2 separate regions of the Homo sapiens genome follow, and region 1 is linked to region 2. The links come from fine-mapping of genetic effects on gene expression. A gene starts in region 2. The other region holds a variant in brackets. All regions are shown on one strand. Distances are between the middles of the regions. Region 1 overlaps PRR16 (proline rich 16). Region 2 holds the start of PRR16 (proline rich 16).

Evidence for each region.
Region 1: its variant is fine-mapped to the expression of PRR16 in testis (GTEx, PIP 0.94).

What each region holds. Positions count from the first base shown.
Region 1 is chr5:120,537,952-120,543,331 of GRCh38, reverse strand. The region is part of intron 1 of PRR16 (proline rich 16); the gene reads right to left. Among named protein-coding and RNA genes, the nearest start is that of PRR16, 76 kb to the right of the region's middle. The variant G/ATG (reference allele first, on the strand shown) is at 2,471.
Region 2 is chr5:120,461,683-120,467,062 of GRCh38, reverse strand. PRR16 (proline rich 16) reads right to left here and starts at 2,763. Exons shown (of 2, transcript NM_001300783.2): 1 at 2,418-2,763. The coding sequence starts at 2,576. RefSeq lists an enhancer at 1,888-2,389 and a silencer at 2,795-2,844.

The DNA of each region.
Region 1 (5,380 bases), 76 kb before region 2:
TAACCCCACGATATGCTCACCAAATGCCACACTCTTGCATCTACATATAATTCTTAAACACCTATTAAGTAGTTTTAAGCAAGTTTTCATCCGTTTTTGACGTATTTTACAAAAATTTCCCAAGCAAGTATTTTACAATATAGGAAAAGCTCAACCGTTTTCTTAAGAGTTTGATAATTACAAGTTGAATCTCTGCATCTGAAAGGTAAGGGGACTATATTTCAGCCTATGGATTTATAATAAAAACAAGTCATGCCATACATATTACAATCAGATGAATTATTTAAAAGGACAGAAATGTAATAATCCTCAGTAAAGGCTCTATTCTTACCTATTCTAAAACTTAGAATCTTCAAAAGTCATCAAATAGTTTCCTAATAGTTAAAAACACAGCAATAAAACCACACATTGAATAATCACTCGTTAATGACTGTATTATTTCTATTCTTGATTCTTTAAAGAATGACTGCTAATAATATAAACACTATCTTAGGTGTCGTCACAAGAGAGACAAATAAATGTGAATAAGCAAAAACTTATCCACCTTCAAAGAACATTTTCAGTACCAGCTACACAATACTGCAAGGGGATGACACTGCCTTCAAAATACATACTTATGTAATTATAAGATATACCATCCTGGTTCTTCTCATTACTGACATAGACCATGACACCTTGGATCCATCAATCTTTTGGTTAATCTCTATCTCATTTTTTGTCTGTTTTTGTTTTTATGTTGAAAAGATGGAGATTAAATGAGAGGTGGTATCTTGGTTTGGGTCCTGAAATAGAAGAACATTAATGGAAAAACTGGTAAATTCCAAATAGAGTTTGGAGTTTTGTTAATATTAATTTATCCATGTTAATGTCTTAATTTCTGACAAGTGTATCATGTAACGAAAATGTTAATAGTGATAGAGGGTGAAGAGTATATAGGTACTCCCTGTACTATCTTTGCAACTTTTTTATAAATCTAAAATCATTCCAAAATAGAAGGAATATTTAAAAATACTGAGAAACCATTAATAAAGATGAGAATGCCATACGAGTTAGAAGTAAAAACAGAAGTTATATATTTATCTTGAAGAAAATATTTATTTACTTTTTCAAAAAGCTACTCCAGCATAAGTATCACCACTCAAAACCTTGCAACAAGCTGACTCGAGGCACTAACAAGGCCCAAAAGTTGCTGCAAAAATTGAATTACAGTGCCCCTGAGAAATATAACACACACACAAAAATAGTTTCAGCTAATAAAGTGGTATCCCTTTCCGAGGTTCTTTGTAACACCTAGAGGAAAAGAAATGTCAATCATTTGGTTTCAACAAGGGAGTATCAAGAAGCTATATTGCTTATTTTTAATCTGTGGCTAAAATGAGTGCTCAAAACTGTAATTAAAAAAAAAAAGAGGAAAGGAAGGGGGTAAATTCTGCCTGATAACTCAAAAATGATCAAGAGAATAGGAAGTGGCAAAGATATCCTGGAGGAAATGTCTTTTTGGTTGATGAAAATATCTATTCCACAAAGCCTATTTAAGCCCTGAAAGTTGTATGACCCCAGTTATACTGGCAGGAACACTCCCATATCTAGAGCCACAATTCTTTCCAAAGACTAACTTTCATTATAAAAAAAGAAGGCAGAAATGAAAGTATAAAACTCTAAATATTAGGAAACAGATATATTTTTAAATGCCCTTGAGCAATCATTTTAAAGCCCGAATCTGCTGTAGCTGAATATATTATTTAATTGCTTGTCATTAGTTCTTGAAAGTAGAATGCACAGTTTAATGTCCATACTGGTCTAGACGTAACAAAATCACACCTTGTGACGAGAAATGACACAGAGTTGGGAAGCAAAAACATTCAGGCTTTTAAAAAACAGTCATTGGCTGGGCACAGTGGCTCACGCCTGTAATCCTAGCACTTTGAGAGGCTGAGGTGGGCAGATCAGCTGAGGTCAGGAGTTTGAGACCAGCCTGGCCAACATAGTGAAACCACATCTCAACTAAAAATACAAAAATTAGCTGGGCATGGTGGCATGTGCCTGTAATCCCAGCTACTCAGGAGGCTGAGGCAGGAGAATCACTTGAACCTGGAGGCAGAGGTTGCAGTGAGCCGAGATTGCGCTACTGCTCTCCAACCTGGATGACAGACTGAGACTCCATCTCCAAAAAAAACAAGAAACAAAAATAAACAACAACAACGAAACAGTCATTTATTGTTATATATCTAGTCTGTATTACCTCTGTCCTGCCTCAAATACTAAAGCAATCAATTATAAGACCTCTAAAGAATCTCTTTATAAAATACATGTATGTGTGTATGTGTACGTCTAAATGCATTTGTTGCATATCCCCATGCTCATGGCACTGTTCCAGGTGCCTAAACAGAGCTTACATTCTGTCAGGGTGGGCTGAAAATGAAGTTCCAATCACAAAATTAATAATTTAATTACAGTTGTGATATGACAC[G/ATG]TTAGAAAGTAGCAGTATATAATATTAAGAGCAAAAAGAGAGTGTTGATCTATTCTGTGGTCACTAGGAGGCTGAGTTCTTATAACCCATTTATTCCTGAGGTTGCAATTTTTGGAATTTTTGCAATCAGACCTTGGTGATGACCTTGAGCAGTAGGATATAAATAACTCCCAGATGCTTAGCGTTCCAATAATGGAACACTAGGCATAAATAAATTGTCTTGAAGGATGGGAAAGAGTTGGTCAGGACAGACCAAAGGAGAGAGGAAGGTGGAGGGCAATACCACATATCTAAAGTCCAGGACAGGAAGGGACATCATATTTTCAAGGGACAGTATACAAGGCTACGTGACCAAAATACTAACTGCCTAGGGGCACATGGTACAAAATGAACCTGGTTAAGAGAGGCCCGGCCAGGGCACATAGGGCCTTATAAGGACTTGAGAAAGAAATCTGGATGGTGTCCTAAAAACCTCAGATTTTCTGATTAAAGCAAGACCAAGCCCGAAAATCATGTTAAGGAGGAAAGAGACATTTCTAGATTTGAATTCAAAAACATACAATCTAGCTGCTGTGTGCAAACAGATAAGAGGTTCCTCAGGGGCCTCTGCAATTGCCCTGCTGAGAATTTGTGTCCTGGCCTGAAGGGAGGCTCTCCAAGAACAAAAAAATGGAATGTGTAAATGTGCTTGGCTCAATTTAAAAAATAAATAAATAAAATAAAACAAAACACTGTTACTGCTGTCTTTTCTTCTAATGAACCATCAAAATAAGAAGCCCTGTTAGGTTCACCAAAAGTAAACTGGTTTCAAAATAAACTCAAAACGTGGCAAGCTCTACCCAGGTATGAGCCTCTGGAAAGGCAGCTGTACTCTCAGGCTTTAAAAGTGCCAGGCATGAATTTCAACCAAAAAGGGATTTTGAAACAGCAAGAACCTATAATATAAAACACAATAGACTCTAAAAATGACTCGGTCATCTCTACCATTACACATGTTAACTACTCATCCAAAAAAAAGAAAAAAAAACCTAATATTCATACAGTGTTTTTCACAACATCCAATTACATTATACACAACTGATAATTTAAATACTCATTAACCAATGAATAATACAAGAATCTCATGACTCAAAATGCTCTTCCTACACCCTTTTTTACTGACACAGATAGCATTGTTTTTTTTTCTTTTCAAGTTCTATTTCAGGTTCAAGGGGCACATGTGCAGGTTTGTTACATGGGTAAATTGCATGTCTCAGGGGTTTGGTATGCAGATAATTTTGTCACCTGGTAATCAGTATAATACCCGATAGGTTGTTTTCCATTATTCACCCTCTTCCCATCCATAGCAAAATTTTTCCTGAAGATAACATATAAATCCACTAAAGTATTAGATGGCTATTCAATAATTATTTAGTAGTAATTTAAATAAATTTCAGAATAAAATCTATATTAAAATCCTTTGGAATATCTATGGGCATTACTTCTTGGCTTTGGTTTCTTTGTTGTTATTATTTTAAATATTTGATATTAATTTAAAATATTTTTAATCTTCCAGGGAAAATATTATTAGAAAATAATATTTAGAAAATATTTAGAAAAAATATTATTTTCTAATATTATTAGAAAATAATATTTACTGTTTCTTTGTTTTGCCAATACTATGATTTTAAAAACCTAGCATTCTTCAAAAGAAAATATTCATGAGAACCTCCTTCAGTTTTTCTCTTTATGGTGTAGAAATGGCGTCAAAGTTGCCTGTCAGAAATTTCACAAAATGCTAACAGCCATACTGAGCCACTCCTTTCTGTTTTCTCAGGAGCCCAAGTACCTTCTCTGTCCTTGGAGTGGTCTCGTCTGCTCCTAATTTAGCCATTTTCCTTCAAACCAATTTTCCTTCTCTGTATTTTACTTCACTCATTTTTTCACAGTCTTCCTCCAGGGAACAAACTCACGATGCAATTGCTAGTCAGCAGCCAACACTTTCTCCCAGCAGTAGCCCTAAGCAGGCTGCACATGCTCAACCTACTCCAGGCCCAACTATAACTACTGGGAAAGAGAGCAGTGAGGTAATTCAGATGACTGATACCTTAAAGAACAAGATTATTTGGAACCATTTAGGAGAGTGTGGGAAGCAAGGACAACCTTCTTTTTTTCTGCAACTGCAACACATTAATGCAAATGCTGAAGATGCTTTCAGTTTATAAAAGCACCCTATAGACCTGTACTTCTTTTATTTCTGAGAAATTCAAACCACCAAGCAGTTATCAAAATGTTTTAACAGCAGAAACCTTTATTTGGTCCCCTATATCGCCACTAAAAGTGGCATTTTAATAGCATATATTAATGTTTGTAAGTTCGAAATTGCAGTATGTGTATCCAATAAATTGAATTACATGTATTTTAACAACACAAAATTTTGCAGTTGAGGTTTATAGATGACTGTTGTTCCTACAGACAAATTACGTGTGGATTCCATTTTGGTTGCAAAGTAGTGACAAATCCTGACTCATAGAAATACAACTGAAAATGCTATGTTTTCTCAAGAGCTTCCCTTAAAAATCTCAGAATGCTTATCAATTAAACTAAACCAGTAGCTTGAAAGAGGATGGTAGAAATATCTTGTTCAAATTTAAAATGGAAACAATAATAACTTGCTTGTATTTTCTAAATATTAAGTATTCAACATAAATGAAATCAATGAATAGACAACTCAGTCTTAATCTCTTTATTTAGCAGAAAGTATGTTTCAAAGTATCTTCTAATATTATGCTTATATTATAAACAACGGCCGGGCGCGGTGGCTCACGCCTGTAATCCCAGCACTTTGGGAGGCCGAGGCGGGCGGATCACGAGGTCAGGAGATTGAGACCATCCCGGCTAAAACGGTGAAACCCCGTCTCTACTAAAAAT
Region 2 (5,380 bases):
TACATGCTGGACAACTGCAAGATGTCATAGGTTAAACATACCCTATAAATACTTTGTTCTCAAAATATTTTCATTCATATTCTATGAATAGCCGATGTTTTGGGATTTGGCCATTGTAGGTACATTTTCTTGTGCAAATCTAGGATGATGATACCCACACAAAAGTAATTAACAATCACATCACATTATTTATGTCATAAATTTCAGTTTCATGGTGAGATTTTTACTCAAACAGATCCTTAAGACAAACAAATCTTCCAAAATGTTGAGTCAAAATTGTATCTCTAGATCTGTCAGATAGTTTCATCTACTGGGTTGTACATTATCTCTGCTTTTTATTCCTCTTATAAACAACCTTTTTTTTAACCTTAAAAAATCTTCAGTAATGAAGACACAGAAAGTGGTATCAACAGATTTCCTGACTTACATTTTTGTGATTCTAACCAATAACCACAGGGAGGTTGAAGATTTCACTACTTAATCTCTAAATGTCCATAAATAATGATGCAAAGCAAAACCAGGACCATGTGCAGTTTCTTGTCATTTATTCTGTGCAAAAAAAGTGAGTGGACTGACATTAAAACATAAGGAAGTATGGCTCACAGATGCAGAATTCTGTTTAACTACCTTTCTTTTAGTCTCAGCCTCATGAAAACAGTAAATACGTTTCTGTGCCGCTGTAGGTTTTCCACATCGCCCATAGAAACCTCACCAACTATTAAGCACAATTCTGCCGAAAGGAACATGCCCAATTTCATTTTTTAAAACGCCATGTTTCAGATGAAAACACAGTCTACCAAAGATGTCATATAAAAGAATAACAAAGAAAGGGACAGCATTTTTAGAATTGAATTTCAATGCATAACCCCACCATCTGTCAACCAGTTGTGAAGCAATAATCCTACAGAAACCCTGAAAACACGAACAAGTTTTATCCCTGAATCTATGTATACTAACAGCCACTCTCAGGACCTCAGTACTAATTATGTTCTGTCTGTGGAGTAACCTACAGGAACGACATTTACCACTGGCAAACTTAACCCTGGTGACGAATGGCCCATTTTAACAGACTTGCATTAGGTAACAAATGCAGAGTTCAGTTCATAGAGGTAACGGGGGAAGGGGAGGAAGACGAGGGGGCTCTTGAAATTTGGTTTGGAAATTGAATACAGGAGGTTAATCTCTAGAGGCCAGTCATCCAAACAACCCTCAGTCTCCTCCCCGTTGGCTTCAGAAACAGGATTACAATTTTGGACCTAGACTACGCCCCACCCCTTTTCCCGCTGCAGCCACCGCCACCTTCGAAGTTCTAGTCTTAGCTCTCACGCAGCGGAGCTGCGGACTCCCTCACCGAGAACCGCACCAGGACCCCATTCAGTAGTGAGCGGCGCGCTGGGACTCTGCTACCAGCTCCGCGACGCCGCCGGCAGCCAGCCTGGCTCGGGAGACCCCACCCCTCCCAGCCCGGCCCCCGCCCCCGCCCGGAGCCGCCGCCTGAGTTACGCAGCCTCAGCCCTGACACCTTCTCTGCTTCTTTCCATCTGGATCACCTGGGGCTAGGGGCGGGCGGGAGTAGGGCTGAACCGAAGTGGGATAGGAAAAGCGGGGAAGAACCGAAGCAGTCCCAGCTGCAGAGAGCCAGGACGCCAATGGCAAGACCCCGGCCACACATACACTCTCCTGCGCGTCCTGCTTCTCGGGTTCAATGCCAAGTGGCGACAGGGTGGAAGGAAGGAAGCAGAGGTAGGGTGGCGGGAAGGCCCAGAGTTACTGGTAACGACGTTCGGAGGAGAGCAGGGGATGCTTCAGAAACTGAGAAAGTGAGAAAGTCCCAGACCCCCTCCTTAGCCCCAAGGCTGCCAGCAGCCCGGGTCGCCTTCCCTACAGCGAGGCTCGAGAGACAGGGAGGGTAGTCTGAGCCAAGCTTCCTCCAGGCTGCCCTCCCTGATCTGGCCCAGGGCCCAGAACCCGGCCCCTCTTCAGCCCTGACTTGGGGAGGCTGACAGATAGGCAGCGGACTTGCCAAAGGACTCTGGGGAAGCAATAGGGCAGGAGAGGAGCATCTTGCACGCTCCAGCCGGGCTGCTCACGACTTCCTCTGCCGACACACCCCCAGCTAACCCTCTCCCCCGTCGTCACACACACAGATTCAGAGACACGCGTGCGTTCATCCCTCCCACCAGCCCAGGTCCATCGATTAAAACACTAGTTGATTTCTTCCTGATTAAAAAAAAAAATTAAAAAGTGCAACAACAACTCCTCTCAGGACTCCAGGAGCAAAGAAAGTCCGTCTGCAGGCGCCTTTTCTGTAGTTTCCCAGGAGTTTGGAAATCTGGCTGTCCCTGCTGAAAATCGGAAAGGGGACCCCGGAGGGGTCGAAGGGTGCCGAACTCCCTCCCCACCCCTGCGCCTCTCACCTCCTTAAGTTCCTTGGCCACGTCCTTCAGGTCGCCCAGGACTAATTCCAAATCCTCCACGATGATCTTGATCTGTTCCTTCACCTTGGTTTTGGAGGCTGCCGGCGGTCCCTCGGCTGGACAGGACGAGGAGGGGTTCCCCTTGGACTTGGCTGACATTCTTTGGGGGCAAGCGAGGCAGGTCAGGACAGGCGGGCGAGCGGAGGCTGCTGCGTGCCCCCGTCCCTGGCGCTGCTACGGCCGCTGCCGCCCCGGTCCCCCCACATCTTGGGCGCTCCCTGGGCAGCGGCGAGTGGCTGCGCTCCGCGCTCGGCCGGGCGGCCGCACAGTGGTGCTGCCATCAACTCCCGAGACGCGGCGCTCGGCTCGGGGCTGCAGACGGGCGAGCAGCGCGCCTGCGCCTCCTCCCGCCGCCGCCCGGCGCTCTCGCGCACACGCGCTCGCTCCCCGCCCGCGGAGAGGGGCGCCGTGCTGCCGCGCCAGGGTTGACGCTTGCAGTCCCCTCGACGTTGCCCTTCGAGATATCTCCCAGATGCCACCTTGGCATCAAGGTGGGGGAGACAAGTCCGTGTCCTGCCCGCCCCCTCCTCTTGGTTCTGAAATGTCCCCATCATCTCAGCCTGCTTGCTGTATGTCATCTCACAACTAGCCTGGATTCTTTCTGCTTCACTTGCTAGCAGGGACCTGGATCAATTCAGAAAGAACCACAGTGGGATCAGGAGTTGGAGACAGTCTGTAAAGTGGCCCTACAGATTTATCCAAACCCAAATGATGTCCAGAGGCCTTTAATCAATCTCTTGGTGACCTGCGAGTTAAGCAGACTTCTTAACTTCTGCAAGAAAAAAGGGGGGGGGGGGTGCACATAACAGCTAATGGTCATCTATTGAAACCATGAAATTCAACCAGTGTTCTTGAAAGAGGTACCCTAATCCTGCTAATTCCACAAAGCTAATACCGGATTTATTAATTTGAAGTCCCCACACCCCAAATCCTCTCTGATTGTCTCAGTCATCTTGGCTGTATGTCTTATTTGGCCCAACTCTTTTTTTTTTTTTTAACTGTCCTTCCTCTTTTTGTGACCTATGCTGATTTACATTTTGAGTGGAGTGGGGGAGACATCGTATTTGGACCTCGTGAAGGAGCTGAGTAAGAGATTGCCTCCAACTTCTCTTTCATCATTTTTTAAACCTCCATTTCAACTCTTTTGCTACTAAACAAATAGGAAACAACTTTCTGACTGTTCTGTCAAAAAGACCCAAGAAGGGAAGTTAATAGGAAGCCTTCGGTTCACTCTCAGTAGGTGTCTACAATTCTCATTAGCTAGAATTTTAACTTCCTTAGTTGTAAACCCATGGGCTATTAGCTACTGACCCAGCAGGCTGGCTCTACTTTATTTTCTTCACTGCACACTCCTCCAGATCATTCTTTTAATAGGCTTCCCCTTTTCGTCGTGCCTTAGCAAGGCTCTCTGTTTCTTGCTTCTCACACTCTGGGTAGCTCCACTGTGCTACACATAAAGAAAAGCTTGGCAGCTCTCCTCTTCCCAGTTCTGTAGGCTCTTAATCAATCACTCTCTTAATCCTGGACAATTCATCTTTACAAAACCTTTGGAAGTCATATGTGGAATATAGAGGAAGAAAGAGAACAGAAGAAAAAATTGAAATTTGAAAGTGGTGTCAAAAGAAAACCATTGAAAACTGCATTGAAAAATCAGGGGAAGAAATGAGAAAAGGTGAAAAGCAGATGCTGCTGGAAAGACTTAAGAAGAGATTATAAGAACAAGTCTGCAGCATGCAAACTGGAGAAAAGAAAAAGAGAAGAAATGATTAAAAGTGTGAAATAAGTAATATGCTTGAGTTCTCTGAGGTAGGGAGAATTAGATTTTTAAAACATCCTTTTTCTCCTCAAATTCTTTATTTTATAAAAAATATAACATTAAAATAATTATATCAGGTTTACAGACTCCCCAAAATTGTCAAAACTAGCAAAAGCTAATGGTAGGGGAAAAGAGAAAGTACTATTCTTCTAGATTGGAATTATTTTTGACTCTTAATAGTAGGCAAGTGTGTAAGAAAGCCGCCAAACTCAAAGTTAAGTGACTTTAGACAAGGATATGGGAGAGGAGGAAAGGAAATTGTGATTTCCCTCACAGTGACAAAATAATCCTCCCACAATATAAGAAGATGTCCATGCTACTCTGAATCTCATTCACTAAAGATTAAAAAAAAAAAAACAAAACAGGCTAGGCACAGTGGCTCATGCCTGTAATCCCAGCACTCTGGGAGGCCGAGATGGGTGGATCACAAGGTCAGGAGTTCAAGACCACCCTGGCCAAGATGGCAAAACCCCATCTCTATTAAAAATACAAAAATTAGCTGGGCATGGTGGCAGGAGCCTGTAATCCCAGCTACTCAGGAGGCTGAGGCAGAGAATTGCTTGAACCCGGGAGGTGGAGCTTGCAGTGAGCTGAGATCGTGCCAGTGCACTCCAGTCTGGGTGACAGAGCGAGATTCCGTCACAAAAACAAAACAAAAAAAACTGTTCTCTTCTGATACTCTGATATCCACTGCTGCTACTGAAACAAATAATTCTGACTTAAAATCAAATCATAATTATTGCTTAGAAACACACCACCCACACCCATATCACAGTTCACTCTGAAATAATCACTATCATCTATCTATCTATGTCTTTATACAATATAGAGTTAACTGAATAGGGAAAAGTTAAAATTGGCTTCCAGGCCCAAACTGAGAAAGCTGGTAGGATTGCAGCAGTGGTGTCTGTCCCTATCTTCTAGTCATTAAGGATCACTTAAAGCAAATCTCCATAAAATATGTCTAAAGAAGAAACTTTTATAAAGGGAATTATAAATATTGAGGAGAAGAAGACAGAATAAAAAGGGCCCATGAATATAAATCAAGTGTATTTACTTCCTATTTTTGTATTACCCTATGGAAAAA